Linked DNA regions of Homo sapiens: region 1 is linked to region 2. Evidence: fine-mapped QTL for protein levels in blood plasma. Region 2 holds a variant in brackets. A gene starts in the other region. All regions are shown on their forward strands. Region 1 holds the start of EDA2R (ectodysplasin A2 receptor). Region 2 overlaps TERT (telomerase reverse transcriptase).

The links. PIP is the posterior inclusion probability: the model's chance that the variant is causal. Protein levels are from antibody-based Olink assays in UK Biobank. Linkage for the fine-mapping came from a reference panel and not from the study's own genotypes, which makes the PIPs less certain.
Region 1: it holds the start of EDA2R, and the variant in region 2 is fine-mapped to the plasma level of the EDA2R protein (UK Biobank, PIP above 0.99).

The regions. Positions count from the first base shown.
Region 1 is chrX:66,638,600-66,653,422 of GRCh38, forward strand. EDA2R (ectodysplasin A2 receptor) reads right to left here and starts at 479. Exons shown (of 7, transcript NM_021783.5): 1 at 396-479. RefSeq lists an enhancer at 1-299.
Region 2 is chr5:1,272,746-1,281,657 of GRCh38, forward strand. TERT (telomerase reverse transcriptase) reads right to left here. Exons shown (of 16, transcript NM_198253.3): 4 at 7,413-7,593; 5 at 6,546-6,725; 6 at 5,896-6,051. Among named protein-coding and RNA genes, the nearest start is that of TERT, 18 kb to the right of the region's middle. RefSeq lists a silencer at 3,949-4,243. The variant C/T (reference allele first, on the strand shown) is at 6,930.

The sequences.
Region 1 (14,823 bases), not on the chromosome of region 2:
GCAGTTCTGCTTTCCTCAGGATGCTCCACAAGTCTGATCCACTGTCCCCGCCTTCACTAACACCCAGCCTCCTTCTCTTCTTTATCTCCCAACCCTAGATGCTCAAGGTTGTTGGACACGTCCAGGCATGTTCTCAGAGGCAATGCAGGTCCAGTAAGAGCCTACAGGAAATGGCTCGCCAAGATCCTAGAGATGTCAGCCCAGATCCCTGATACCTCAGAAAGCGCTCTCCGGACACAAATGGATGGACTGACAGCCAGCCACAGGGCGCCTTCCCAATTGTTCTGATTTTGCGGTACCCTAGCAGGATCATCCTGACCTGATTCTGTACTTCTGCACCTAGATGCCGCAGGTCCCAGCCGCCTTGCCACACCAGGGGGTGTTCCCACACTCACCCGGTAACGGACGAGTAGATGGCTCTTGCTCCCAAATGGGACTCCGGTACAAATCCACCTCAGCGCAGAGCACACATCTCACCCAGCCCCCTCCCGTCACCCCCCGCCCTTCACCCCGCGCCCCTCAGCCCCCGCCCCTCAGACCCGCCCATCAGCCCCGCCCCTCAGCCCCCGCCCCTCAGCCCCCAGCCTGCATACACACTCACAGTATATGAAATTCCTTGTAATCAAAGTTCCGCTTGACTCATTTCACATCCACGTGTAGCAACAACAGCCCAAACCCTCCTTTCACGGTAAGCTTACCTCTTCCGCCCCCGTGAAGTTCCTAGAGCAGCTATTGGACTGTTTGAGTGCCTAGGCGTGGCTACGAAAAGAAACTGCCTTTGAGAGGAACAATGTGAGGCTGAAGAACAGTGACCCAGCCACTGGTATGGCAGGAGCTGCAAATCTCCTGGGACTGAAGCGGGGGCCAGAGAGTAGAGGGCCAGGGAGTGGGGTCCAGAGAAAGCATCAAGTTGTCTCTTTCACAGCTGAATGCAGCTCAGCTCATCAAAGTTTATTCATGACTTAGCAGGCTTGGAGTTTGACAGGGAAAATTATTGTTGGAAAAGCCAAAATTTTCAGACACATGGAGAAGCCGCTTTCCAGCTCTGCATCTGCCTCAAAAAAATACTCCTCCATTCAGAAGGGTAGATAGGATTGTGACAGGAGGAAGAGAGCAGACATGAAGCAGGGAAAAGACCACTAAAAATAAAGGAAAATTGGATTCGGCACTCAGCTTTGATCATCCATCTTCTCTGGGCCCCTGAGTGTCTGTACAAGGAGGGGGTTGAGCTACGTAGTCTCTAAGGGCACTTCAAACAATGACACTTTGGGAGTTTATTAATCCATGATCTCAGAGGCAGCGGTGGATAAATCCCGAAACGTTACTAGTCCCTGACCTTGAAGAGTTTGCAGAGCTGGGAAGATAAAGTAGACCGGACAGAGACAGAGAATTAAGGGCCAAACTATGAGGTGCAGACTGGAAGGGTTTGGGGGCCAGTAGGAAGAAGGAGTAAAAAAGAGTCTGACAAGGAAAGCAAATGCTTTTCAATAGATTAGGAGCTTTTAAAAGAGGTCAAAGAGGAAATAGCCTAATGGGTAGAGGAAAAGAAAAGCTTGAGCCAAGGTATGGGGGAGAGGACCAAGAAATGAGCCATTATCAGTCTCTGAGGGACCCCTCCTGTACTGGGCAGAGGCTATATGCCAGCTCAGGGTGGAGTCTCAGTAAAGCAGCTGAAAAGCCTTTGGTGGGAAAGGGCTGAATAGGCCCTAAGCTGAAGTAGAAAAAGTCCTAAATGAACTTCATATCTGTCCCCTAGCTAGAGTTAAGACCAGAATAGGCTACTGTGGGCTCAGGCCTAGTAGAAGGGAAAACTGCCAGAATTGGAATCCTAGGTCTGCCCCTTACTAGCTTTGTGACCTAAGGCAAGTTACTTAACCACTCTGTGGCTCAGGATTCTCTTCTGTAAAGTGGGGAAAATAACAATCCCTTACTCATAGGATTGTTTTAGGTATTATATGAGTTAATATACAAAATAGTGTTCATATGCGTAAGGAGCTTAGAATGATTTCTGGGACGTAGTGGTATAGAAGTGTTTATTAAATATAAATAAATACATGAATGCAATTTAGGGACCTCTGAAATCATCTGTGAGATTCAAATGAAAATAGCTACCCTGGGTACCTCCTAATTCTGTTCTGTCCTTTCCTAGAAAACAGGACCTCTTCTTTTTCTCCATCCTTTCCTACCCAGAGAAGCTGAATTACAGACAGTTTTGAAACTTTAGTGTAAAGAACCCTAGCTTGGAATTTAGATGTCTTGACAAAACTAAGTGTAACATCATGTAAATCTCTTCCTCTCTCTTAGTTTTCCTTTCTGCATCTGTATCCTGAAGAGACTGTTGGACTGGATGACCTTGAAACGCTAGAGCCGTGCTTCTCTCATATTAATGTGCACACAAATCACCTAAGGATCTTGTTAAAACACAGATTCTGAGTTAGCAGCTGTGGTGTGGGACTAAGACTCTGATTTTCTAACTGCTTCCAGGTGATATTGATGGTGCTGGGCCACAGACCATAGTTTTAGTAGCAAAGGTTTAGAAGGTGGACAAGAATAACATTTACTGAGCACCTATAAATCATGCATATGTGTCCCTTTATACCTTACAACCATTCTATGAGGTTGAGGTTACCATCCTCATTTTGTAGATGAAGAGGCTCCTTGTACTCTGTGATTCTGCCTGGAAGTACAGGAGGAAACTTGAGATAGAGGTACCAGGGATATGTCAGAGTCCACAAGCTATTGTGGAAAGTGATTATAAGCAGCAAATATGAAACCACTGTCCTCCACCATAACTTGTCCAATAATACTATAACAGTTAGCTGGCCCTCACTAAGCACTTGCCAGGCACTGCTCAAATTTTTTTCATGAATTAATTCATTTTATCTTCATAATCTATGAAGCCACAATCATTAGAATTATCCTCCCCTCTCCTTTTGCTCACACCTCACATTCAACCCATCAGCACATCCTATCAGCTCTGCCTCCTGCCTCAGAGATAAACTCTGAATTTCACCAACTTCTTAGCACCTTCACTGCAACCACTCTGGTGCAAGCCACGATTACTTTTCACCTGAATTATTGCCATATCCTCCAATAGCTCTCCTTGCTCTCATGCTTACCCCACTCCAGTCAATTCTCAGCAGAGCAACCAGAATGATCCTTTTAAAAGTACATCAGTCTAAGTCTGTCCAAGCAATTCTACTGGTTGGCTTCTTATTCAGCAGAAAACCCAAAATCCTTAACTATGGTCTATAATAGTCTACAATCTATCCCACGCCATCCCATCCTCACTAACCTGCCCCTCTATCTCTGATCTCACCTCTTACCACTCGCCTTGACCACCATACCCAACCCCAACTGGCGGCCTTGATATTTTTTCCAACACTCAAAGCATGCTCAAGACTCTGGTCTTTGCACTTGCTGCTCCTTCAGCCTAGCCAATTCTTCCCCCAGATATCAGCATGGCTCCTTTTCTCACTTCCTCCATATCCCTGCTTAAATGTCACTTTATCAAAGTGGACTTTCTTGAATACCCTAGCTAGTACAAGCTAATGGGATTGCCTAGGCCTTTTGAAATCCACTGGGTAGGTGAGCTTTTTCTCAACATAGCCCCAGGACCCCCGGTGCAGTGTGGTGGTGAGTAGGGTTAAGGCTCTCAACTCTGCTCTCTGTGGGGGAGCCACTCTAGCTCCATGTGCTTGTGCAGCAGAACTAAGTTTGGATCAGCTAATTTCTTGGGGGCTTTCCACAGCCCCTCCTTTTATGATAAACAGGAGTCACTTTGTGAACCCAAACTGAGAACTATCAGTACAGAGTTTCTCTACCTACATTCTACTGCTGGAACCAGCCTAACCTGACAGCAGGATAGGCAGGACCAGCCTCCACTCTGCTTATCTCTGGGACCAGACAGATTCTGGGGCTCAGTGAGATTCAGGGCTCTCTGATGCCACCCCTCAGCTCTCTCTCAGAGGTTACTTAGGGTCACTCAGGGGAATACTGGCCTTGGCTGTGTCTCAGAGAATCCTGGGTAGCCTCTAATTCTAGTGTCCAACAATGGCAGGACCACCTTTCATGAAGGAGCTTCATGGTTATCCAGGCAGAATGGGGCCCTTATAGCTCCTCTCAAGACTGGGACCAGGGGGCAGGAAAAGAAGCTGAAAGACTAAGGGGATGCTGAGGCCTGTGGGGCAACCCCTGTAAACTCAAACATTGCTAAGGATGTCCCTGAACACAATATCAGCTTCTTGTTCTCTTTAGCCTGTGAGATGTGTGTAGATAAACTTGGCCATAAATGTTTGCTGCAGTGGTGTATACAGGCTTAGGTCTTCTGAATTAGAAAGCTGGGGTATAAGAGTTACTTCTAGCCATGGGAATTTTCAAACTTCAGCTAGATTCTAGCACAGTCCAATAGTGTTATCTCTCATTTTAAATAATCTTCTATTCCACTTGCCCAAGATGGCTTTTAAAACTCACTCTTCTTAAGTCAAGTGCTCAACACAGCTCCCAAACCCCTAGCAGATGACTTCACCTCCAGTTTCACCGAGAATGTAAAAGGGCACGAAACTTGAAGTCTAAACAACTTCTGACATCTCCACATTCAAGTTCATCCTGTTTCTTACCTCAGAGTTTCCTCCTGTCCCTCCTGTCTCCATCTGTGTTTACTCCTGTCTATTCCATTTTGCTTTATTTGTATCTTCATGGTCTTTCTTCCTCTGGCTCTTTCTCCTAAATTGTCTTTCCATTCTGAACTAAGATTAATTCTTTTCATATCCTCACCTCCACCTCTTCATTTCCAAACTCACTACATTTTGCTCTTCTCAAGGTCACCCATGATTTTCATACTATCAAACCCATGGATTCTTCTGTTTTCTTATTTGAATTATCTAAAACATCCAACATTGTCTGGATTCTTTTCTTTCTGACTCTCTTCCCTTGACTTTCATGGAACTAATGTCTTCTAGTTTCACTTATTTCTCTACAGCATTTTATGGATTCTCATTCTCCACTTGCCCCTCAAGTGCAGGGATTTTACAGAGTTCCTCCCACCCTCCATTGTCCCTCTGGCCTGATTCTAACTTCTCTCACTGGAGTGTGAACCTATGTGGCAGGGACCTTATATACCATTTCACAAATTTCCACATGCAAAACTGTACCTAGAGTATTTTAAGCGCTCAATACATTTTTACATATTATATATATCAATATATCTGTTGAATAAGCCCAAGGAGAAAAATGTTCACATTTGAATGTATCCTTCTATAATGAGCTCCCAGGCCTCAGGTGTGCCACAATAAAAATAAGATGGCTAAAAAGGAATTGAAACCCACACCCAAAATAATAATAATAGCCAACACTTGATCAATGCTTGATGAACTCTATATGTCAGGCCCTATGCCAAATGTTCTGTATGCAATAGCTCATTTAATCATCACAATAATCCTATGAGGCAAAAACCATGACATCACTCCTATTTTATAGATGACAAAATTGAGGCACAGAAACGATAGGTGACTTATCTATGCCATCTATCAGTGCCACAACCAATAAGTGGCAATTGACCCAGGATTCTCAAGAATAGCTGATGCCTTAATTATTCACTGTCACACTCAAATGTACAATCCTTGCTTTCCCTTCCAATCAGAGGCTCCTTCCATCCTCTCTGAAGAGCTATTCTAAACCTCTACCTTTAGAAGTAAAGGTTAAGTTCCTACTTTAGCACTGAATTCTTAGCCCAGAAACATTGACTCTTTTCTTCTTCATCAATAAAACAGATTCTATTAGGCATTTAGTGCCTATAACTTCTTCCCTAATTCCTATAAGGTTCTCTCTGTCTTCATTCATCTTGGCCTTTCCTCTTGAAGAAGAGGAGAGAATGCCTCCCCTGATATTTATGAATCTTTCTCCATCAATTACCCCCACTCTCTATGGCATCATTATTTACCTGTCTTCTGTGCCTACCCCTTTAACTCGTAAACATATTTGAATTCCTCCCACTACAAAATAAAATCAACCCTTCTACCACATTTCCTCTTTCTCAAACAACAGCCTCGTCTCATTTTTTTTCTTAGCCAAATTTCTGGATAGAGTTTTCTCTAATAACTGTTTCCATGACTTTAATTTCCATTAGCTCCCCAACCTACTATAATCTGGCTTCTAGCCCCATTTGTTCTCCCTAAAGCTACAGGGGACCACTTAACTGCCAAATTTTAGGAAACATTTTCTCTCATCTTTTTTTTTCTTTTTTTTATTATACTTTAAGTTTCAGGGTACATGTGCACAACATGCAGGTTTGTTACATATGTATACATGTGCCATGTTGGTGTGCTGCACCCATTAACTCATCATTTACATTAGGTGTATCTCCTAATGCTATCCCTCCCTCCTTCCCCCACCCCACAACAGGCCCCGGGTGTGATGTTCCCCTTCCCGTGTCCAAGTGTTCTCATTGTTCAATTCCCACCTATGAGTGAGAACACGTGGTGTTTGGTTTTTTGTCCTTGCGATAGTTTGCTAAGAATGATGGTTTCCAGCTTCATCCATGTCCCTACAAAGGACATGAACTCATCATTTTTTATGGCTGCATAGTATTCCATGGTGTATATGTGCCACATTTTCTTAATCCAGTCTATCATTGTTGGACATTTGGGTTGGTTCCAAGCCTTTGCTACTGTGAATAGTGCTGCAATAAACATACGTGTGCATGTGTCTTTATAGCAGCATGATTTATGCACCTTTGGGTATACATGCAGTAATGGGATGGCTGGGTCAAATGGTATTTCTGGTACTAGATCCCGGAGGAATAGCCACACTGACTTTCACAATGGTTGAACTACTTTACAGTCCCACCAACAGTGTAAAAGTGTCCCCATTTCTCCACATCCTCTCCAGCACCTGTTGTTTCCTAACTTTTTAGTGATCGCCCTTCTAACTGGTGTGAGATGGTATCTCATTGTGGTTTTGATTTGCATTTCTCTGATGGCCAGTGATGATGAGCATTTTTTCATGCCTCTGTTGGCTGCATAAATGTCTTCTTTTCAGAAATGTCTATTCATATCCTTCGCCCATTGTTGATGGGGTTGTCTGATTTTTCTTGTAAATTTGTTTGAGTTCATTGTAGATTCTGGATATTAGGCCTTTGTCAGATGAGTAGATTGCAAAAATTTTCTCCCATTCTGTAGGTTGCCTGTTCACTCTGATGGAAGTTGCTTTTGCTGTGCAGAAGCTCTTTAGTTTAATTATATCCCATTTGTCAAATTTGGCTTTTGTTGCCATTGCTTTTGGTGTTTTAGACATGAAGTCCTTGTCCATGCCTATGTCCTGAATGGTATTGCCTAGGTTTTCTTCTAGGGTTTTTATGGTTTTAGGTTTAACATTTAAGTCTTTAATCCGTCTTGAATTAATTTTTGTATAAGGTGTAAGGAAGAGGTCCAGTTTCAGCTTTCCACATATGGCTAGCCAGTTTTCCCAGCACCATTTATTAAACAGGGAATCCTTTCCCCATTTCTTGTTTTTATCAGGTTTGTCAAAGATCAGATAATTATAGATGTGTCGTATTATTTCTGAGGGCTCTGTTCTATTCCATTGGTCTATATCTCTGTTTTGGTACCAGTACCATGCTGTTTTGGTTACTGTAGCCTTGTAGTACAGTTTGAAGTCAGGTAGCATGATGCCTGCAGCTTTCTTCTTTGGCTTAGGATTGACTTGGCAATGTGGGCTCTTTTTTGGTTCCATATGAACTTTAAAGTAGTTTTTTCCAATTCTGTGAAGAAAGTCATTGGTAGCTTGATGGGGATGGCATTGAATCTATGAATTACCTTGGGCAGTATGGCCATTTTCATGATATTGATTCTTTCTATCCATGAGCATGGAATGTTCTTCCATGTGTTTGTATCCTCTTTTATTTCGTTGAGCAGTGGTTTGTAGTTCTCCTTGAAGAGGTCCTTCACATCCCTTGTAAGTTGGATTCCTAGGTATTTTATTCTCTTTGAAGCAATTGTGAATGGGAGTTCACTCATGATTTGGCTCTCTGTTTGTCTGTTATTGGTGTATAAGAATGCTTGTGATTTTTGCACATTGATTTTGTATCCTGAGACTTTGCTGAAGTTGCTTATCAGCTTAAGGAGATTTTGGGCTGAGACAATGGGGTTTTCTAGATATACAATCATGTCATCTGCAAACAGGGACAATTTGACTTCCTCTTTTCCTAATTGAATACCCTTTATTTCCTTCTCCTGCCTAATTGCCCTGGCCAGAACTTCCAACACTATGTTGAATAGGAGTGGTGAGAGAGGGTATCCCTGTCTTGTGCTGATTTTCAAAGGGAATGCTTCCAGTTTTTGCCTATTCAGTATGATATTGGCTGTGGGTTTGTCATAAATAGCTCTTATTATTTTGAGATACATCCCATCAATACCTAATTTATTGAGAGTTTTTAGCATGAAGGGGTGTTGAATTTTGTCAAAGGCCTTTTCTGCATCTATTGAGATAATCATGTGGCTTTTGTCGTTGGTTCTATTTATATGCTGGATTATGTTTATTGATTTGCATATGTTGAACCAGCCTTGCATCCCAGGGATGAAGCCCACTTGACCATGGTGGATAAGCTTTTTGATGTGTTGTTGGATTTGGTTTGCCAGTATTTTATTGAGGATTTTTGCATCAATGTTCATCAAGGAAATTGGTCTAAAATTCTCTTTTTTGGTTTTGTCTCTGACAGGCTTTGGTATCAGGATGATGCTGGCCTCATAAAGTGAGTTAGGGAGGATTCCCTCTTTTTCTATTCATTGGAATAGTTTCAGAAGGAATGGTACCAGCTCCTCTTTGTACCTCTGGTAGAATTCGGCTGTAAATCCATCTGGTCCTGGACTTTTTTTGGTTGGTAAGCTATCAATTATTGCCTCAATTAAGAACCTGTTATTGGTCTATTCAGAGATTCAACTTCTTCCTTGTTTAGTGTTGGGAGGGTGTATGTGTTGAGGAATTTATGCATTTCTTCTAGATTTTATAGTTTATTTGCGTACAGGTATTTATAGTATGCTCTGATGGTAGTTTGTATTTCTGTGGGATCGGTGGTGATCTCCCTTTTATCACTTTTTATTACATCTGTTTGATTCTTCTCGTTTCTTCTTTTTTAGTCCTGCTAGCAGTCTATTAATTTTGTTGATCTTTTCAAAAAACCAGCTCCTGGATTCATTGGTTTCTTTGAAGCTTTTTTTGTGTCTCTATCTCCTTCAGTTCTGCTCTGATCTTAGTTATTTCTTGCCTTCTGCTAGCTTTTGAATGTGTTTCCTCTTGCTTCTCTAGTTCTTTTAATTGTGATGTTAGGGTGTCAATTTTAGATCTTTTCTGCTTTCTCTTGTGGGCATTTAGTGGTATAAATTTCCCTCTACAAACTGCTTTAAATGTGTCCCAGAGATTCTGGTACGTTGTGTCTTTGTTCTCGTTGGTTTCAAAGAACATCTTTATTTCTGCCTTCATTTCGTTATGTACCCAGTAGTCATTCAGGAGCAGGTTGTTCAGTTTCCATGTAGTTGAGCGCCTTTGAGTGTGTTTCTTAATCCTGAGTTCTAGTTTGATTGCACTGTGGTCTGAGAGACAGTTGGTTATAATTTCTGTTCTTTTACATTTGCTGAGGAGTGCTTTACTTCCAACTATGCCGTCAATTTTGGAATAAGTGCGGTGTGGTGCTGAGAAGAATGTATATTCTGTTGATTTGGGTTGCAGAATTCTGTAGATGTCTATGAGGTCCACTTGGTGCAGAGCTGAGTTCAATTCCTGGATATCCTTGTTAACTTTCTGTCTCGTTGGTCTGTCTTTTGTTTAAATTTGGGTGTTAAAGTCTCCCATTATTATTGTGTAGGAGTCTAAGTCTCTTTGTAGGTCTCTAAGGGCTTGCTTTATGAATCTGGGTGCTCCTGTATTGGATGCATATATATTTAAGATAGTTAGCTCTTCTTGTTGAATTTATCCCTTTACCATTGTGTAATGGCCTTCTTTGTCTCTTCTGATCTTTGTTGGTTTAAAGTCTGTTTTATCAGAGACTAGGAATACAACCCCTGCCTTTTTTTTGTTTTCCATTTGCTTGGTAGATCTTCCTCCATCCCTTTATTTTATGCCTATGTGTGTCTCTGCACGTGAGATGGGTTTCCTGAATACAGCACACTGAGGGGTCTTGACTCTTTATCCAATTTGCCAGTCTGTGTCTTTTAATTGGAGGATTTAGCCCATTTGTATTTAAGGTTTATATTGTTATGTGTGAATTTGATCCTGTCATTATGATGTTAGCTGGTTATTTTGCTCGTTAGTTGATGCAGTTTCTTCCTTGCCTCAATGGTCTTTACAATTTGGCGTGTTTTTGCAGTGGCTGGTACCAGTTGTTCCTTTCCATGTTTAGTGCTTCCTTCAGGAGCTCTTTTAGGGCAGGCCTGGTGGTGACAAAATCTCTTAGCATTTGGTTGTCTGTAAAGGATTTTATTTCTCCTTCACTTATGAAGCATAGTTTGGCTGGATATGAAATTCTGGATTGAAAATTTTTTTCTTTAAGAATGTTGAATATTGGCCCCCACTCTCTTCTGGCTTATAGAGTTTCTGCTGAGAGATCAGCTGTTAGCCTGATGGGCTTCCCCTTGTGGGTAACCCAACCTTTCTCTCTGGCTGCCCTTAAAATTTTTTCCTTCATTTCAACTGTGGTGAATCTGACAATTATGTGTCTTGGAGTTGCTCTTCTCGAGGAGTATCTTTGTGGCATTCTCTGTATTTCCTGAATTTGAATGTTGGCCTGCCTTGCTAGATTGGGGAAGTTCTCCTGGATAATATCCTGCAGAGTGTTTTCCAACTTGGTTCCATTCTCCCCATCACTTTCAGGTACACCAATCAGATGTAGATTTGGTCTTTTCACATAGTCCCATATTTCTTGGAGGCTTTGTTCATTTCCTTTTTCTCTAAACTTCTCTTCTCACTTTATTTCATTCATTTGATCTTCCATCACTGATACCCTTTCTTCCAGTTTATCGAATTGGCTACTGAGGCTTGTGCATTCATCATGTAGTTCTTGTGCCATTGTTTTAAGCTCCATCAGGTCCTTTAAGGACTTCTCTGCATTGGTTATTGTAGTTAGCCATTTGCCTAATCTTTTTTCAAGGTTTTTAACTTCTTTGCGATGGGGTTGACCTTCCTCCTTTAGCTCGGAGAAGTTTCATCCTCTGAAGCCTTCTTCTCTCAACTTGTCAAAGTCATTCTCCATCCAGCTTTGTTCCGTTGCTGGTGAGGAGCTGCTTTCCTTTGTAGGAGGAGAGGGGCTCTGATTTTTAGAATTTTCAGCTTTTCTGCTCTGTTTTTTCCCCATCTTTGTGGTTTTATCTACCTTTGGTCTTTGATGATGGTAACGCACAGATGGGGTTTTGGTGTGGATGTCCTTTCTGTTTGTTAGTTTTCCTTCTAACAAACAGTCAGGACCCTCAGCTGCAAGTCTGTGGAGTTTGCCAGAGGTCCACTCCAGACCCTGTTTTCCTGGGAATCAGCAGCAGAGGCTGCGGAACAGCAGATATTGGTGAACAGCAAATGTTGCTGCCTGATCGTTCCTCTGGAAGTTTTGTCTCAGAGTGGTACCTGTCCGTGTGGGGTGTCAGTCTGCCCCTACTGGGGGGTGCCTCCCAGTTAGGCTAATTGGGGGTCAGGGACCCACTTCAGGAGGCAGTCTGTCCATTCTCAGATCTCAAGCTGCGTTCTGGGAGAACAACTAGTGTCTTCGAATCTCAGTTGGAAATGCAGAAATCATCCATCTTCTTTGTCGCTCATGCCGGGAGCTGTAGACTGGAGCTGTTCCTATTCGGCCATGTTGGAACTGCCCGACTTGCTTTTTTCACTCGTCTTCTTACTTGATTTATCCACAGCTTTTTCCAGTAGTGGTCACTCTTTTCTTGGAAAACACTATTTCTAATGTTGAAAAAAGAATCCTGTCCCCTAGCTTCCTTCTATTTTTCTTTTTCTTTTCATTTATTTATTTTTTTATTTTTAAAATTAATATTTTTCCATAAGTTATTGGGGTACAGGTGGTATTTGGTTACATGAGTACTTTCCTTATCATTACTTCCCCTTATTGTCTGCTCTCACCTTACTCAAATCACTTCAAATGTAGTTCTGACTCAGACAAGTAGCCAAACCCTCTATGCCTACTCTATACCTTAGCAGGCCTATGCTCAGAAGCTCAGCACACACTGACCAGAAGGCTCTGCAATAATGACTATTCTACACATGTATTTGTTAATAATATTACTTTAAAGTAATGTGGGATATAACCCTTTAAAGTCCTGTATACATGTACCTCATTCAATCTTTATAATCACAGGAAAGTGGAATTACTCTTATTGTAGCAATTTACTAATTGGAAAGGGCAGAATTGCTGTCTGTTGGATGTGCACTATATACAGGCACTATACTAGGTAATTTATGTAAGTTATTTCACTAACCCTTCCAGAGCAGCTCCATAATTAGCTCCATTTTTAAAAGTGAAACAAGTAAACATATAAAACATTAAGTGGGAGTGACAGCAGCAACATTGTTGGATAGAACTTTTCAGCACTCATCCTCTTGTAGAAACATCAGTTTGAAAAACAATCCATAGCCTGAGCAACAAAGCGAGACCCCAATCTCTACAAAAAAAAAAAAAAGTAATTAGCCTATTGTCATGGTATGAGCCTGTGGTATCAGCTACTTGAAAGGCTGAGGTGGGAGGATTGCTTGAGCCCAGGAGTTTAAAGCTGCAGTGAGCTATAGATGATGCCACTGCATTCCAACCTGGGTGATCAGAGCAAAACTCTCTTAAAAACCAAAACAAACAAGCAACACAAACAATGACAATTACAAAAAATAAAACTATCCATGAACAAAAATATGTTCACAAGAGTAAAGGAATCCAGGCGAGAGATTATAGCACCTGGACATAGCACAGAAATAAGAAAAGACACATCAAAGAGGGAAGGAAAGAAAGTTTTATGTTATCCATATTATCCCTCCCCCATGTCTCGGCAAAAACCATGACATTGCTCCTATTTTATACATGAGAAAATTGAGGCACATAAATGATAGGTAAATTATCCATACTAATATATCTGGCCTAGTTACCAGGCTCACCACAGCTATAGGCCAGTCCCTATATATTGAGGTTCCAGGCCCCTCCCATACTCTGGAGAAGCCCCAGCACCAGGCTAGTCCCCACAGCATTAGACTCCATGCTGGCATCCACAGACCCAGCCTCCAGGCCTGCTAGAGTGTCAGAACAAAACTGACAGACCCCACCTCCAGTTTGGCTTACATGGCACTAGGCATGAGGCCAGCATGCACACACCAAGGCTCTATGCTAGTATTCATGGCCCCACACTCCAGTGGACCCCGAGACCAGACCTGCTTCAGTAGGCCCCAGCACCAGGCCAGCCTATGGCCTTAGGCTGCAGAATTACCCCCCACAGCCCCAGGATCCAGGCTTAGCCCACAGACTCATCCTTCAGGCCCAGACACATACTAGGCTTGCTCCCACAGATCCAGCATCCAGGCCAACCCCTATAGACCTAGCTTCCAGGCCACCAACTGCAGACTTAGAATCTAGTATGCCACCTGCAGACCCAGGATAGAGGCCTGCTACAGTGAACCCAGGCTCCAGGCCCTTTGCTGTGGATAAATGATAACAGGAAAACAATACTTCAAAAAAATGAAACATTTGACAAAGAGATAGAAAGCATAAAAGGGAACCAAATAGAAATTCTGGAGCACAATGACTGAACTAAAAATTTCTAGAGAAAGCTGGAAATAACAGGCTCAATAACACAGAAAAATAAAGCAGTGACCACAAGACAGATTATTTGAAATTGCCCACTCAAAAGCAACAGTAACAAAAATAAAAGAAAAAGGTGATGAAAGCATGTGGGACTTATGGGATACCATCAAGGAAACCAGTATGCAGTTAGCACTCCATATATGCAAGTTCAGCATCCAGATTATCAACTAACCACAGATCAAAAATATGTTTTAAAACCCAATAACAATAAAATAATACAAATTTTAAAATACAGTATAACAGGTATTTACATAGAATTTACATAATATTACATATTATGCTTACATCTAGAGATGATTTAAAGTATACATGAATAGATATGTGAAGGTTATATGCAAATAGTACACAATTTTATGTAAGATGTATATTCTAAGTCTCATGGTAACTACATAAAAAGCGAATATTAGATACACAGATGATAAAGAGAAAACAAAACATACTGGTAAAAGTCATCAAATCACAAAGACAGACAGCAAGAGAGGAACAGATGAACAAAAGAATTACAAAAGAGACAGAAAACACAATGGCAGTGGTAAGTTCTTAGTATCAAAAATTACTTAAAATGAAAATAGATTCAATTTTCCAATAAAAAGGAATAAAGTGACTAAATAGAAAAACAAGATCCAACTTATGTTTTCTACAAGAGTCACAGTTCAGCTTGAAGGATGCAGATAGGCTGAAAGTGACAGTATGGAAAAACATACTTCATACAATGGGTAATCACAAAGAGCAGGGATATGTCTACTAATATCAAACAAAATAGAGATTTTAAGTCCAAACTGTGACAAAAGACAAAAAAGCATTATATAATGATAAAGGGGACAATTCATCAAGAAGGCATAGCAATTAATTGTAAATACATATGCAACCAGCATGACAGCAACTAAATATATAAAGCAAATATTAACAGAGCTGAAGGAAGACTATTTTGCATTTCTGCAAAAATGCAAATGCAAAAATAGTAGCAAATGCAAAATACAGTAGAGAACTTC
Region 2 (8,912 bases):
TCACCACACATCAGACCCCACGACCGCCATCCACAGTCACCACATCAGACCCCACGACCGCCATCCACAGTCACCACACATCAGACCCCACGACCGCCATCCACAGTCACCACATCAGACCCCACGACCGCCATCCACAGTCACCACACATCAGACCCCACGACCGCCATCCACAGTCACCACACATCAGACCCCTGTGACCGATCGCCATCCAGTCACCACACATCAGACCCCCGGGACCAACCGCCATCCACAGTCACCACACATCAGACCCCACGACCGCCATCCACAGTCACCACACATCAGACCCCTGTGACCGATCACCATCCACAGTCACCACACATCAGACCCCACAACCGCCATCCACAGTCACCACACATCAGACCCCACGACCGCCATCCACAGTCACCACATCAGACCCCACGACCGCCATCCACAGTCACCACACATCAGACCCCACGACCGCCATCCACAGTCACCACACATCAGACCCCACGACCGCCATCCACAGTCACCACACATCAGACCCCACGACCGCCATCCACAGTCACCACATCAGACCCCACGACCGCCATCCACAGTCACCACACATCAGACCCCACGACCGCCATCCACAGTCACCACATCAGACCCCACGACCGCCATCCACAGTCACCACACATCAGACCCCACGACCGCCATCCACAGTCACCACACATCAGACCCCTGTGACCGATCGCCATCCACAGTCACCACACATCAGACCCCCGGGACCAACCGCCATCCACAGTCACCACACATCAGACCCCACGACCGCCATCCACAGTCACCACATCAGACCCCACGACCGCCATCCACAGTCACCACATCAGACCCCACGACCGCCATCCACAGTCACCACACATCAGACCCCCGGGACCAACCGCCATCCACAGTCACCACACATCAGACCCCACGACCGCCATCCACAGTCACCACATCAGACCCCACGACCGCCATCCACAGTCACCACATCAGACCCCACGACCGCCATCCACAGTCACCACACATCAGACCCCTGTGACCAACCGCCATCCACAGTCACCACACATCAGACCCCCGTGACCGACTGCCATCCACAGTCACGTGGCACAAGTGGCACTCGAGCTCCCGGGCCTCTCCAGCCCAGTGCTGGAGGGATTGCAGGGATGCAGGTGCAGCCACAGCACAGGCAGGAGAAGAGTCTGAAGACGCGGGAGAGAGACCGGCACCCCCACCTCCTATTCTGCAGACTCCCCCAGGACGCTTGTCATTTACTACGGGACCTGCTAAGCCCCTGCGTCCCCAAGACAGGATGTGAGCAGGCACGTGACACACACTAACACGGACACAGGAGGCCTCGAGCTTGTGAGGCATCAAAAGACGCGCACGGTGACTCTGTGCTTCAGCATGTTCCCCAGCCCCCAGGAGCTGGCGGCAGGGCCGTGGGCTAAAACCACATCGAGTACGATTCAACCCTGAGAACCAACCTGGAAGGCAGTAACAGGAAGGTACATGGGGCCTGCACCCTTCCCAACCCAGGAGCAGGCAACACGCCCACAAATAGCCCATGGGTCTGAGGTCGGCGGAAAGCATCACAGAAATCCGTAATTATTCTGGACTCAACACAGAAAAGCCAATATATCAACACTGACGAGAGGCTGCTGAAGCAGGTCTTTAGCACAGGGTCCCCAACCATTGTGGTACCAGGGACTGGTTTCGTGGAAGACGATTTTTCCACAGGACAGCAGTGGGGAAGGGGATGGTTTTGGGAGCAAACGGTTCCACCTCAGATCATCAGGCATTAGATTCCCATAAGGAGCACAGAATCTAGACCCCTCTCACGCACAGTTCTCAGTAGGGTGTGTGCGCCTCTGAGCACCGCATGCCACTGCTGATCTGAGAGGGGCGGGGCTCAGGCGGGAACGCTGGCTCCCCACACCCCACCTAGCCTCCCGCTGTGCGCCGGGTTCCTAACAGGCCCCAGACCGGTGCCACTCCACAGCCAGGGGCCTCGGGATCCCTGCTTTAGAGGGAAAACGGCAACTTCAGATGCTTGTTTAGAAAAGAAAGTTCAAACATCCATAATCGAAACTTTTCCTTCAAGGAGCCGGAAAAACAACAATAAACAAAGCCTAAAGGAAATGGAAGGAGGCCATCGATAAACAGCAGACACCAATTACGCAGGAAACAGCCGGGAAATCAGCACACGTGAAACTCTTCTGTGAAGAGAGTCATGAAATGGAAAGACCCCTAGCGAGACCTGGAGAAGGAAAACGGAGGTTGTCAGCACCAAGGCTGCAGGCAGCTATCGCTGCAGATCTCACGGAAGCTGCAGGAAGCGAGTCTCGGCCGGGCGCGGCGGTTCACACCTGTCATCCCAGCACTTTGGGAGGCCGAGGTGGGAGGATCACCTGAGGTCAGGAGTTCGAGACCAGCCTGGCCAACATGGAGAAACCTCGTCTCTACTAAAATTACAAAAATTAGTCAGCATGGTGGTGGGCGCCTATAATTCCAGCTACTTGGGAGGCTGAGGCAAGAGAATTGCTTGAACTCAGGAAGCACAGGTTGCAGTGAGCCAAGATCACGCCAAACCACTCCAGCCTGGGCAAAAAAGAGCGAGACTCTGTTATCAAAAAAAAAAAAAAAGAAAGAAAAAAAGAAAGAAAGCAAGCCTCCAACTCGCAGGGGAATTCCAAGGACGGAGCGTAGCCAGGGCCACATCCAGGCCAATGAACACAAGGAGGCCTGGAAGCCCTGCCCACCGGCCACACACCACAGCAGGCACCACACGACCCCAGAGTGGAAGAAACAGAACAGGGAGCCCAGGGGAGGCCTCCACACCCCTGACTTACTATAAACCCGACCATAGTTCAAAGGAAGATATGGTCTCCTCAATAAAGCTGTTGGAGCACCTGCAGACCCACTACAGGAAGAAAGCTCGCCTTGAACTCTGTGTTACCCCACTCATAAAAACCAATCCCACAGATCCCCACCTATCCCACACATGAAAACCAATCCCACAGATCTCCACCTACCCCACACATGAAAACCAACTCCACAGATCCCCACCTACCCCACACATGAAAACCAATCCCACAGATCCCCACCTACCCCACACATGAAAACCAATCCCACAGATCCCCACCTACCCCACACATGAAAACCAATCCCACAGATCTCCACCTACCCTACACATGAAAACCAACTCCACAGATCCCCACCTACCCCCACACATAAAAACCAACTCCACAGATCCCCACCTACCCCACACATGAAAACCAATCCCACAGATCCCCACCTACCCCACACATGAAAACCAATCCCACAGATCCCCACCTACCCCACACATGAAAACCAATCCCACAGATCCCCACCTACCCCACGGATGAAAACCAATTCACAGATCCCCACCTACCCCACACATAAAAACCAATCCCACAGGTCCCCACCTACCCCACACATAGAAACCAATCCCACAGATCCCCACCTACCCCACGGATGAAAACCAATTCACAGATCTCCACCTACACCACACATGAAAACCAACTCCACAGATCCCCACCTATCCCACACATGAAAACCAATCCCACAGATCCCCACCTACCCCACGGATGAAAACCAATTCACAGATCCCCACCTACCCCACGCATAAAAACCAATCCCACAGATCCCCACCTACCCCACGGATGAAAACCAATTCACATATCCCCACCTACCCCACACATAAAAACCAATCCCACAGATCCCCACCTACCCCACACAAGAAAACCAATCCCACAGATCCCCACCTACCCCGCACATGAAAACCAATCCCACCTACCCCACACATAAAAACCAATCCCACAGATCCCCACCTACCCCACGGATGAAAACCAATTCACAGATCTCCACCTACACCACACATGAAAACCAATCCCACAGATCCCCACCTACCCCACACATGAAAACCAATTCCACCAATCCCCACCCAGGTTTGCAAGCTGACACAGTAAAGACTGTTCTAAAAGGAGGCGCAGAAGCAACGTCACCACAACCTCAATACCTTGAGTTCCTGCAGAGAACACAAACAGCTTTAGCCACAAACAGCTGATAAAGTGGACTGCGTTACTGGACTGTGTTAGTGGACTGCGATAGAAGTACAATCTTCCAGTCCTCAAAAGGCTTGACTTGAGAGCACAAAAGCAAGACACACACGGCACAGAGATTCACAGTGCACGCATGTGATGCCACACTTGCAGCAGAACACACAAAGAGCTCCTGCAAGCCGATGATGGCAGGCAGGCGCCCCATACAGAGCGGGGCAGGACGGACAGCCACCTCCCGCAAGAGCCCCGGGGCGGCCAGCACGGGAACACTGTGGGCACGTGGGCATCAAGAGAGCCCCCTGCACAATCCCACGAGGCGGCTTCGACACCTTCAGGCCAGCGGCCACCGGAGGCATCGCCCTCACAAGCAGCCAGCCGGGGTGTCACTGTCACCCCCCTGGAAACTCCCACAACATCCCTAAAGCACGTCTGTGACCCAGCAACCCCACCCCTGGAATTCACCCAGAGGCGAGGGCCTCTGACCCCTGGGACACTCCCAGAACCCAGCAGGCTCACAGCAGGCGCAGCCGTGCAGTCCGCACCCAGGAGCCTCCACAGCAGCGGGAAGGATACATCCACGTGGCGAGTTCCACAACGGATGCCATTCATGGACAGAACGCACAGCTGAGGCGTTCAGCATAGCTGAGGCTCGAACCCCAAAACCCACCTCCTGCCTGATCTCACTCACATGGAGACCGGGAGAGGGAGACCATGGAGGTCGAGGTCGGAACGAGGGTCACGGTGGGGGCGGTAGCTTCCGCTGCAGCGGGGATGTGGGGGGGGGTCTCCTGGGCTCTGGTGACTTTCTACACCCGGGCACAGGTGGGCGGTGGGGACGGGGGGGTCTCCTGGGCTCTAGTGACTTTCTACACCTGGGCACAGGTGGTGGCCATCAGCTTTCCATGAGGGTAAAATTCTGCTGAGATTTGCAAGTAGCTGCGATAGCTCAAGAAGTCAGAGAAAGAGGTCCTTGTGGGTTTCCACATGTGCCTCTCCCCAGACCGAAGCTCCAGGGATACTTCTTCACCTCTGCACCCCGGCCTGGCACGACTTTGAGGGCTTACCCCTCCAGCGTGCTCATGACCACTGGGTGGGAACCCAAGCCCAGGGCCCCTTTCACCCCTGCCGAGCCCCAAGGCCCCCGGCCGCTCTGGGAGGAGTGTGTCCCGGGGAGCGAGGCCTGAATCAGCCTTCCTATATCTCATGGAGCCGGCATAGGCCAGACTGGGGTCCTGGGGGTGCCAGGGGTCCAGGAAGGTACCACCAGCATCCCTACTCTCCTCTCAAACCTGGCTTACAGTCTCCAAGGCCCAGCCCTGTGACAGGACAGGGGCACCCATGCTAGAAGTGAGGACCCTGAATGTGGAGCTCCCCAAACCAGCACCCGAGAGCGTGAGGACAATGGTGCGGACCATGCCTGGAGGAGGAAGGAGTAAGGCCAAGGGGCCACACACACCCATGCCATAGACACGCATATGTCACGGACACATGCACACACACACACCACAAATAGGCACATCACAGACATGCAGCACACAGCATGAACATGCACGTGTCACAGACACACACACATGCACACCACAGGCACACACACCATGGACACACACGTGCCACACACACACACACCACAAATATGCACGCCACAGATACATGCACCACGACACACACGTGCCACACACGCATATCACAGATGTGTAAATCATGGAAGTACCTCCACCACAGAAACGCATCACAGACACGACTGCATTCTAGACACATTCATATCCCAGAGACACACATCCTGGACACGACTATCACACGTGAACCTTACGTGGCTCTTGAAGGCCTTGCGGACGTGCCCATGGGCGGCCTTCTGGACCACGGCATACCGACGCACGCAGTACGTGTTCTGGGGTTTGATGATGCTGGCGATGACCTCCGTGAGCCTGTCCTGGGGGATGGTGTCGTACGCGCCCGTCACATCCACCTGTGTGAGTGGAGGCGAGGAGACTGACAGTGGCCACGCAGAAACTCAGACATCACCTCTGCCCTCAGGGCCTGGCCTGGCGGTGTCCCCCACTCTCTCTCTGACCCCCACCACTCCAGACCCCAAGGGCAGGGCGGGCTGTGTCCCCTCTCTGAGCCTCAGGACAGGAGACCCCTGGCTCAGGACTGGGGTGCAAGGCACCGGGGCCTGGTGGCTGAGCCGTTGCGGTTCCTTCTCTGACGGAAACTGGAATCCAGTGGGACCCTCCTTGGGAATAGGAGCCCGGGCAGTCAGGGTGCACAGTCGGCCCCATGTGCTGCAGGAAAGGCTGAAGGCCTCCACCCTAGGTGCCAGGTGTGTCCTCAACAGTGACAGGGTCACCTGCACTCCCTGCGGCCCACCCAGGAGTACCTCCTCCACCCAACATGAGGTGCCAATCAGGCAGCCACTCCCAAGGTCCAGCAGGGCTGCTCACGGGGGTCCCCGGCACCCACCTTGACAAAGTACAGCTCAGGCGGCGGGTCCTGGGCCCGCACACGCAGCACGAAGGTGCGCCAGGCCCTGTGGATATCGTCCAGGCCCAGCACAGAGGCGCCCAGGAGGCCGGGGCGCCGCGCCCGCTCGTAGTTGAGCACGCTGAACAGTGCCTTCACCCTCGAGGTGAGACGCTCGGCCTGGCGGGGACAGCATGGGAGACAGTCAGGAAAGTGGATCCGGCCAAGTGCCCACCCCACCATAGGGACCCAGGGGAGAAGCAGCCCCTCCCCAGTGTCCCCAGCCACCCAGACCCGGGACCTAGAACCCCTCCCAGCTTCCTCAGACCCTGTTTGAAACGGGTTCCTGGCCGCATGTGTGTTGCACACGGGATCCTCATGCCA[C/T]ACCTCTGTCCACCTCACCCCACACTCTCCTCAGATGACGGGGTCACCGCAGCCACCGCAGCCACAGGGGTGGGGTGCAGGAGCCGTGGGGCAAGGTCCAGGATCCTCAGAGCCCGGTGGGCTCCTGGCAGTCGTGGCCTGGTCCCCGGGCCCCGTAAGCGGAAGCGCACGGAGGCTGCGCACCACAGCAGGACACGGATCCAGGACCTCGGGCCGTGCTGCATCCAGGCCCTGGCCCGGCTGCTTCTTGTGGTCCTCAGAGCCTGTCCCTGCCCCAGGAGCTCCCCCTACACCCCCACGCTGCTTTTCTGGAGGCACCGGCACCTCGGCCACCTCACTGTGCGCACAAATGGGTTGGCGCCGTGCCATGGCCCTGGCTGTGTCCCGTGGCCCCTCCTCCGGGCCCTTCATCTAAGCTGATACCAAATGTGGGGCTCAAACGCACTTCTGTTTAAAAAGGAAGTTAAACCAAAGCACAGCCACCCTCTTTTCTCTGCGGAACGTTCTGGCTCCCACGACGTAGTCCATGTTCACAATCGGCCGCAGCCCGTCAGGCTTGGGGATGAAGCGGAGTCTGGACGTCAGCAGGGCGGGCCTGGCTTCCCGATGCTGCCTGACCTCTGCTTCCGACAGCTCCCGCAGCTGCACCCTCTTCAAGTGCTGTCTGCAATAGAGAGCCCCTCAGGAGGCTTGCTCAGCCAGACAACAGACTAGGGGGAAGCTCACGGGAAGCCACAAGCCCCCACCGACTCAGTGAGGGCTCAGGGCACCCACGGCAGCACACGCTGAAGGCCATGCCCGGGGCCACGTCCACCCATGCCAGCCAGACGCCTCTGAGAGCCCCTCTACTTGCAGGGCACCTGGACACCTGGTCCTATAGTCAACCCTGGGGACGCCCAGTCCGGCGGTCAACCCCCAGGGTGACTGTCCCACCATCAGCACCAGGGAGCCTGGTCCCAGGCTGCATCTGGGGCCACGTGAACCCATGCCCCTCCACACAGGATGCCTGTCCCTCTGGTACAGCCACTGGGGTAGCCCAAGGCTGGCCCCAGGCAGGACCCCCAGGTAGAAAGAGCCACATCCCTTCAGATGGAGAGGGCGGGAGAGGCTGCTCAGGGCAGCTCAGCCAAGGAGCAGAATCAGCTCTCATGAGCCCACCAGTCTCCTGACACCTCTGCCCTTTGGCCTTTTCCCCCAAAACCACCCATGGGGGCACGGGGGCTGGAGCGGCCACACCTGGACCTGGGCATCTGTGGCTGACAGCCTGGCACTCCGTGGACACTGGGGCCGCGGGTGCTCCGGAGCTGGTGCCCTGACCGCAGGCCGCAGGCCCAGCAGAGTAGAAAAGGCACGGTACCCTGTCCAGGGAGGAGGGGCCTCCAAGGCCCCCCAGGCAGAACAACAGTCCCAGTAGTGACAAGGAGCATCTTGGGGACCACCACGTCTGTCTGCTCCTTCCGGTCACCCCAATTAAATTCTTTCCAAAATACTGGTCAAATGACCATGTTGGGTCGCACACCATTAAATACGTGTAAAGTCTAAGTAAGGTGCATTGTGTATTAACTTGTTCCCACAGGGAAAGCCCTGACCCTCCCCCAGATGCAAGGAAATGGCCCCAGCACCACGTCGGGGTCCCCAGCCCAGAGGCTGTGTTACCTCTGACGAGGTCTGCTGCCAGCTCCCTCTGCAGACATCCTGATTTGGGGCATGGGGTGTCACAAGGCCCCCCAGGGACTCGAGTGTGCAGGGGAGCTGGGGAAGCCCTGATCTTCTGACTAAAGCCCTCCACAGTCAGCCTGGGCGGGACACGGAGAAGCTAATACCATGGCCTGGGCTCAGCCAGGCTGGCATCTCCCAGACCAGCGCTCCCGTCCCTCACTGATGCAAATCCAGCTTGAATCTGTCACAATCTCACACTCTCATCAGCCGAACATTGCAGACAAAATCTCACAGCCATTCAAATGCAGCCACCTAGAAGTTAGC